Regions from separate parts of the Homo sapiens genome. Here region 1 is linked to region 2. Evidence: fine-mapped expression QTL. A gene starts in region 2. The other region holds a variant in brackets. All regions are shown on one strand. Distances are from middle to middle.

The links. PIP is the estimated chance that this variant, and not a neighbour inherited with it, causes the effect. A credible set is the group of variants that fine-mapping cannot tell apart.
Region 1: its variant is the best candidate, but not a certain one, in a credible set for the expression of XRN2 in fibroblasts (GTEx, PIP 0.60).

The regions. Positions count from the first base shown.
Region 1 is chr20:21,431,254-21,435,649 of GRCh38, reverse strand. The region is part of intron 2 of LOC105372558 (a long non-coding RNA gene); the gene reads right to left. Among named protein-coding and RNA genes, the nearest start is that of NKX2-4, 36 kb to the right of the region's middle. RefSeq lists an enhancer at 1,965-2,259. The variant A/G (reference allele first, on the strand shown) is at 2,251.
Region 2 is chr20:21,300,899-21,305,294 of GRCh38, reverse strand. XRN2 (5'-3' exoribonuclease 2) reads right to left here and starts at 1,964. Exons shown (of 30, transcript NM_012255.5): 1 at 1,822-1,964. The coding sequence starts at 1,896. RefSeq lists an enhancer at 1,367-1,416 and a silencer at 2,137-2,266.

The DNA.
Region 1 (4,396 bases), 130 kb before region 2:
TTGAAAGGGTGTCCATTGTGTTTCTCAGAGTGGCTACAATAGTAATTAACATATTGCTTAGCCAGGACTCTTTCCCTTTATACAGAAAAATCTAGCCTGACTTGTTAGTGGCTTACAGATGATAAAGTTGGTATAGATTTGACTAAGGCTGGAAATAAAAGGTTTGCTCAACTTAATAACAATAACAAGAGAATCACAGGTTCTACCTCTCATTTACTAATGATACACTTGAGGAAATTGTGTAAACCTCTGTGTAGACACACCAATGTCATCAAACTGGGCTCTAGGTTCTACCTAGTTTCTGCGATGTTCATAAGATTCCAGACCTGCCAAAAGGTGACTTCAGATTACCCTTCTACCATTCACATGGGAAGTCATTCTACCATTATCATCCTCATAACAAGACAGATCTTCCACATGTAAAAGATTTTTAAAAATCATTGGAACAATAAAGACATTTAAATATTTTTATAATATTTGATCAGGAAAAGAATAAAAAACCAAAAGCCACAAAGGAAACTCCAACAGATTTAGTTGCATAAAAATTTTAAGGTCCATGTATTAAAAGACATTGAATCAAAATTAAAAAACAAACACCAAACTGGGGGAAATATCTGTAATGTATACACAAAACAAAGAGTTAATATTTTTACCGTATAAAGAACTCTTACAAAGCAACACAGAAAAGATGAACACCACAGTAGAAAAAAGATACGAACAGACAATTCACAGAAAAAATCCAAATGACTATTAAGTATATTAAATGATGCTCAGTCCCATGAATGATTACAGAAATGCAAACTGAAACAATAAAATACCATGTTTCCACTGGTATGGGTATGGTTTTAGATGAAAAAGAAGGCTAAAGTTCATTGCTAGCAAGTGTGTGGGGGAAAAGGTGACCCTTATATACAGCTGGTGAGAGCATAAATGGTGCTACTTTTCTTTTCTTTTGAGATGAAGTCTCGCTCTGTTGCCCAGGCTGGAGTGCAGTGGTGCCATCTCGGCTCACTCCAAGCTCCGCGTCCCGGGTTCACGCCATTCTCCTGCCTCAGCCTCCTGAGTAGCTGGGACTACAGGCGCCCGCCACCATGCCCAGCTTATTTTTTGTATTTTTTTTAGTAGAGACGGGGTTTCACCGTATTAGACAGGATGGTCTCAATCTCCTGACCTCATGATCCGCCCGCCTCAGCCTCCCAAAGTGCTGGGATTACAGGTGTGAGCCACCGCACCCAGCCAAATGGTGCTACTTTTCTAAAGGGTAGAGTGTATCAAAATGAAAGTTCTATCAATTCCACGTCTAAGAAAATCATTGTTCAGGTGTACAAAGCTGTATATACACTGACGTCCATGGGACCGTTGTTCACAACATCTGAAAATTGTAGCAACAGGAACAACAGTCAATAAGGACCTGGTGAAGTAAACCATGCTAGAATTATACGATGGAATTTCATGCAGCTGAGAACATGAAAAATGCCATCAATATAGGAGTACATAAACAGAGAAGACTACAGTATGTAGTATCACCCCATGTATGTAAAAAAGGGAAATGTATGAAGGAGTCTAAAAGACTACATACCACATTTTTAAATGGCTGCCTCCGGCAGTTGTGTCTTGGGAAACAGGGCAAGGGCAGGCATGACTAAATGCCCTGGAATCATTTGCACAGGTGTCCCCCTATAAGACTGAGATCTGGAAAGCCAGACGGAGTGATGGAGACTGCAGGTGAAAGCAGCCTCTCCTCTGACCCCAGCTGGCTTCTGCTTGAAGGGAAAGGAAGAGAACTAAGGGGAGAGATGTTATCCAATTACAGGAGTCCCTATAAATAAGGTACCATAAGCACAATGAGGGTGGGTGGCTTAATGGGAGGCTTAGAATACATTTCATTTAGCGCCACTCAGCTAGTTATTCCTGGCTGTAATGCCCTCAAGAAAAGGGAGCTAAGAAGGTCTGTTATAACACTGGGGTAGAGTGGGGAGGAGGAGTGTTGCAAAGTGCTGAGGAACTCTGTAAACCCCCAAGCCTGGCATAATGAGTTGTGCTCTGACATCGGCAAAGGGGTGATAAGGAGGACTACTCACTTTATCAGGGAGAGAGGGAAATGACATCAAGAAAAGAGCAATAACTTGCCTTTTGTGAGTCATCCAAGAGTGTTGGGACAGAGTAACTTCAGAGTCACACTCCACAAGCAGTCAATCAGAAGACAGGCCCAGGGCTTTAGCAAACAGGTAACACCACAGTGTAGTGAAG[A/G]CAACCTGGTGCAACCCTCAGAAGGTGCAGAAATGTTCCTATCTGTAAGCCCAGCTCCAGCTTTTTGGAATCTGGTGCTGAGCCATGTGCATGGTACAAAGTGGGAAGGAGCTTCAGTCTGTGAAGAGTGCCAGGGCAGAGATGAAAGTTTCCAAAGCCGAAGAAAGCCGCCGAATGGTACTTTGAGAATGACAGCTACTGGTGAATAGAACAGATGAGATCAGGGTTCTCAGGATGGATCAAGGTGAAAAACTTCCCCTCTCATTCCTCTCCCCCAACAGCCATGGCTATGCCCAGGAGTGACTAATTCAGAATTCCAGATCCTGGAGATAAAGGGAGGAGCACAGTTTTTAGTGGTTGGTGCTCTATCTCTACTCCCGACACCACCACTGCCAATAGAGACAAAATCTACCTACAACTAAGTATGGACTTGGAAAGAAAGAGTATCTTAGATTTAAATCATCTGGTGGACTACAGCTCTTGTCAAAGGAACCAAGGAAGTCTTGCTTTGGATGTAGGCAAGGAAAAAGTCAGGGTACCCCCAATCTTGATGCGCAATTCAAACTCAGGGCAGGCAAGATGAAGTTAGACAAAAACAAAGACACTTTTACTAGGAGGTCAGAGAAAGAACCATCTCTGCTTTCTCAGTAATGTTTTATTCTTGAATATTTTAAATATTCAAACGGATTTTCTGGAAGCCAGAAAGTAATTATAGGACCAGAGACAACCCATGACAAGGATGGCATAAATGGTTTCATTGTGACATCTGAAATATTTTCACATGACAGGCTTAAACATGTTAACATTTTCATTTCATTATACTGGCAACATAATTAGTTTCAGGATATAAGTACTGAAGGTGTTGATCCAAATGTAATCTCTGTATTTTAGCTCTGAGATATAAATGTCAATGAGTTACAGTTGTCTGAGGCATTTAAAAAAGTCAAAAATATAGGGAGAAATAGCTTTGCTTTGTACTTTTTTGGCATGTCACAGCTCAAGTAAGTGGTGAAATAGTGATGACAGTAAGTGTGAGGTCTTAACCACACTAATCAATTTAAAACTTGTGAGGTTTATAGATATACCCATCAATGAAATAAAAGAGAGAGTTCAGAAATTTTTGGTGTACACATATGTCAATTGATTTTCAGCAAAGACAAAAAGGCAGTTCAACAAATGGCGCCCAAATAATTGGACATTCATTTGCAAAAGAAGGAAGGAGAGAAAAAAGAAACTAGGTCAACACTTCTTCACACTTTTCACAAAAATCGACTCAAAATGGGTCACAGACCTAAGAATAAAATCTAAAACTTTAAAACACTTAGAAAAAGAGTGAATTTGAGGGGTTAATGAAAATATTCTTTATTTTGACTATGGTGGTGGTTACATGACCCTACGCAGTTCAACATTTATTGAACTGAATATTTTTCAAAGGTGAATTTTAATGTATACAAATTATACATTAATTTAAAATTTTTCAATGGCCAGGTACAGTGGCTCACACCTGTAATCCCAACACTTTGGGAGGCCAAGGTAGGTGGATCACTTGAGGTTAGGAGCTCAAGACCAGCCTGGCCAACATGGTGAAACTCCATCTCTACTAAAAATACAAAAATTAGATGGGTGTGGTGGCACACGCCTGTAATCCCAGCTACTTGGGAGGCAGGAGAATTGCTTGAACCTAGGAGGCAGAAGTTGCAGCAAGCCGAGATAATGCCACTGCACTACAGCCTAGGCAACAGAGTGAGACTCCATCTCAAAAATAAATAAAATAAAATAAAATATTTCAAAATTGTAACTGTTAAAAAAAGGGATCAATTTATATAAAACCAATCAACTCTGCCACTAGCCATCAAATGTGACCTGGGCAAAACTTAAGTTTCAGGGCTCAGTTCTTCAATTAATATACTGAAGTTAATATAAGTAGTATCTGGAACATAGAAATATATTCACAAATGTATCTTGGATTGATTAGAATAAGGAAAACACTGAATTATACACAATTTAGAAAATATGAATTACATAAAATTCAGAAATATTATTACCTCAAAATGCTATTTCTTAGCCCTTGAAAACAACTTTTAAAAGAGTTGGTGGCCGGGTGCAGTGGCTCACGCCTGTAATCCCAGCACTTTGGGAGGCTGAG
Region 2 (4,396 bases):
CATAGCGAGACTCCGTCTCTAAATAAATAAACAAATGAAGTAAGATGATGATCCAGAAAACAGTACCTCCCACTGAAGAAAGATATGATAGCAATAATAATAATAAAATCCCAGATGCAGCTTTCCAGCAAGCCTACAGAATAGCCAGGTGTGACAGCAACAAAAATAAATAAGACCCCAAGAAGGACTATTCAAGAAGAAAGATGACTCTTGATAGACTACCTGGTAAAATAGAGTCCGGGCGCGGCAAGATGTAAAGTGGAAAAAGAAAGACAGCCCCAGGGAAAAAGACAAAAGCAGCACAAAAAACAAAATCACAGTACATAACCTGAATCTACACAGTGTCAATAGTCAACTATCCTATCTGATTTTTCAGCATTTTAAATCTGTATAGTCAAAGCCCTGATCATTTAATTTTGGATGCCCACAACGCAAAAGTACAGCTGACAAACTTGAGGTGAAAGGGAAGAAAAGCTAAGATCGACCTTAGAAAGCATTGAGTCAAGGGATACGTTACACAGGCGATGGAATGAAAAAGGCAAATTACTTAGTTATAAAGCTTACCAATAAAAATATATATCTAGTGATTTACTCCATTAAGAGTATAGAGGGAGGGCTGAATAGGTGACTAAATCCTCTCCTATTCCAGCTAGAATTCAACAGATCTAAAAGTGATAACGTATAAGTATGATACTTAGAGACAGAACCAAAACAGTTAAAGGTGGAGAAATGGGATGAGAAGGGGTAGAGCAAGAACTGTTGCTTTTTGTTTAACCCACGTGCAAGTAAAGTTCAATAAAGTTCGATTAAAATTTTACAAAGGAAACAAGTATTCAATTTAGCAGTTGCTTTTTGAAAAAAACAAGAAATAGTGGGAATGTCACTAAGACAAGGCTTTTGGTTCCTCCTTGGATAGAAGCCAAGAAAGTTAAAAAAAAAAAAAAAAGCAGAAATAAGTTCACAGTGACAGGCAAGCACTGCCTTCAAAAACTAAGGAGTGAGGTACGCGTGATGTGCCTCTGAACGTTTCCAATCCAGAAATTCTAATTAAGAGCACAAAATCGAATCCGCATGGAATGACGAAAACAATAAAAACAAAACTCAATAATGGCCAAAAATCTACTTACGTATTAACTAACAACAAAAATTGTACTGCTCAAGTACATCCAGTAATCTTGAAATTTTCAACAAGCACCCACCCCGTTCAGTAGTCAGGGCACACAGAGAAGGGTAACTTCTCAGAATTCTATAGCGCTCATCCTGGACCTGACATACTGCTTTCAGCGTCCAATCTAACCAGAACAACAAATGGTCCTGAACACTAGGAGAAAACCTTTCCGGCACAATTGGTAAACAACGAAAAGGTCGCCGCCAGGGATTCCTTTACAAGGTTGTCAAAAAGCTGGCCTCCGAATCCGTGCATCCATAACCCGCTAGCTCAGCTGACCTGGCATGCATTGCTCAACAACAGCCTCTGAACCTCTTCCGAGACCCAAAATGCGCGGTCTGGAGAGGAAACAAAGCAGTGGGCGGGGCCTTCCGGTGCCGGGAAAAAGCGAGTAGGGGAGGAGCGACCCTCCTGCGAGTTCGGAACCCTATAGGCCCTTGCCCCGCCGAGGGTCCTGAATTCCTCGCCCCCGGGGTGCTGAATCCCACAGCCCGCGTCCCATCGCGTGTGGGGCTGCGACTGCTCGCGAGGCTGGCAGCAGGGCGCGAGCTCCGGCAAGGCTCCCCGGGGGCAGGCGGCGGAGCCCATGGGCCGCGGCCTAGACGTGCCGGGGGCCCGGGCTCGAGTGTGGCGGCCGCCTGGCGCCTCCTCACCTTCTCTTCCACGCAGTTGACTATGATGGACGGGTACTTGCGGCTGAGCCAGCGGAAGAACGCCGGGACTCCCATAGCGGCACACGGCTGGAGGCGGCGGCCGACCGGCTGACGAGCGTAACCAAAGAGACGGGAGCAGCGGCAGAGGGCACCAGCACTTCCTCCCACGTGCGCGCTGGAGAACGGAAGTGACGTCACGGCGCCGCCGCCGGGGAAGCTGGGAAGGAGGCTTCGCTGGATGAGGGAGCGGCGGAAAAGGGCCTTGCCGGGCTGTTTGTGGGAGGCGGAGTCCGGCGGCGGACCGGGTGGCGAAGGCTGCAGCTCGCCCTCGGTGGTCCCAGCCCCGGAGCGCGAGGCCGAGCGCGTCTGAGTTGCGGGGGCTCACGGGCGACTGCTCTGCCGGGGCTCCGCCGGGATCTCCCAGCCCCAGCCCTCCGGCTCCCTGGGCACAGAATCGCTGCGCTCTGCATGCCCGGGAGGAGGTCTCCCTTGCCCGTTTGGTCACCTCTTGTTTGGAAGAAAATGTCTTTTTTTGCCTCTATGCTCACCCGTCTCAATCTAGGGTAGAATCGAAGCATCCAAACTTACTCGTTACTTCCATTTCCTGGTTTCTCCTAGTTTTGTGCTGCAGTACGTACCTGGACTATCAAAAGGAGCATTTTAAAGCATTTTACAGTAATAATGGCTGCTTTGCACCAATAATTTGATTGTTATGCAAATAAATAATTATGATAGTTACCGAATGGAATCTAGCCGGTATTTAGCATCCAATACAATCTTCCAGCTACAATTACGGGTATAAAATAGTTGCTAATATGATTTTCCAGCATTTACTGAGCCTTTACAGTGTACCAAGACATTGACTAAGGGATTGTCCTATGTAATCTTCACTTGAACCTTGTGAGGGTACTGTTAGCACCCTCGTGTAAATGATAAGAAAGCCAAGTTACAGAGGAGTTAAGTCACTTATGCACATAGCTTCTGTTTCAGTTCAAGCAAAGGTCATTTTTAATCCATCCTTGTTCTAACACGATACTTTTATCTTTTGTTTTCTGGTGGTCCCAAACGAATTTTTTCCATATGAAAGGAGAGGTCTGGAAGAGGAGGTATATTTGTCCGTTTGCTCAAGCCTGGAAGTCTCCCTGAATCCCCTCTTGGTTTGACACACATCACACACGATGCTAAATGCTCACCTCATGAGGCCTCTGTGAAAGTATTTCGCCGAGTTACCTCACAGGCAGTATTTATTGCCCCCTCCTCTGTGGTCTGATGACTACTTTGTTTAAACTACTAGTGTGGAAATTAGAGAAATAGTCATCCCGTGTTTTACTTAAGGATAGCCAAAACTATTCCAAAGTATTATGTCTATGGTGAAATTCCTCCTTTTACCTGGAAGCAGCCCCTCTGGTTTCCCTGGGAGGTGCTGTTATAGGAACATGTACACCATAGGCAGTTCAGGGATAGACAGCTGGCCAAGTTGAGCCATTTAGAATCCTTAACCAGCATTTTGGCGGGTTGGGAGGGTTTATTGTTTTGTTTTTGTTTTTTCAGACGGAGTCTCAGTCATCCAGGCTGGAGTGCAGTGGCAAGATCCAGGCTCACTGCAACCTCCACCTCCCGGGTTCAAGCGATTCTCCTGCCTCAGCCTCCCGAGTAGCTGGGATTAGAGGCGCCTGCCATGACACCCCGCTGATTTTTGTGTTTTTAGTTGAGACAGGGTTTCACCATGTTGGCCAGGCTGGTCTCGAACTCCTAACCTCAGGTGATCTGCCCACCTCGGCCTTCCAGAGTGCTGGGATTACAGGTGTGAGCCACTGCACCCAGCCTTACCAGCATTTTTGAGCTTTGAACCATAAGAAATTTAAGACTGCATCTTTCCAGTGCGTGAACGCTAAAAGATAAGAATTGGGACTTGTTGCCAGTAGGCAATGAGAGAAGCAGGGTTAATTCCCTGGTTCCAGTTAAATCCCTCTCTTCCTGCAGTTTGATTAAGTCTGTCCTTTGATTCTGTGAGCCAAATTTTTTTTTTTTTTTTTTTTTAAGACAGAGTCTCACTCTGTTGCCAGGCTGGAGTGCAGTGGCACCATCTCGGTTCACTGCAACCTCCACCTCCCAGGTTCAAGCGATTCTCCTGCCTCAGCCTCCCAAGTAGCCGGGACTACCAATGTGCGCCACCACGCCCGGCTAATTTTTGTATTTTTAGTAGAGATGGGGTTTTACCATGTTGGCCAGGATGGTCTCAATCTCTTGACCTTGTGATCCGCCCGCCTTGGCCTCCCAAAGTGCTGGGATTCCAGGTGTGAGCCACCACTCCCAGCCAAAAGTTTCCTTTTGCCCTAAGCTGGCTTGGGCTAAATTCTTATCCCTTACAAAGGAAAGAGTCCAGTAACAAAATTTGGGGAGTGCAAGCTAATTCACCTGGGTGGTGAAATTGGTTTGCATAGAAGTACTAAAATTGGAGTTTTGGCACTCAGAGAAGGAGTGGGTAAAAGAGAGAAGAAACTTGAAAGGCGGCAGGAGGATATGGACTAAGTATTGTGACACTTTCCCTGGCCCAATGTGTCCAGTAAAGCCT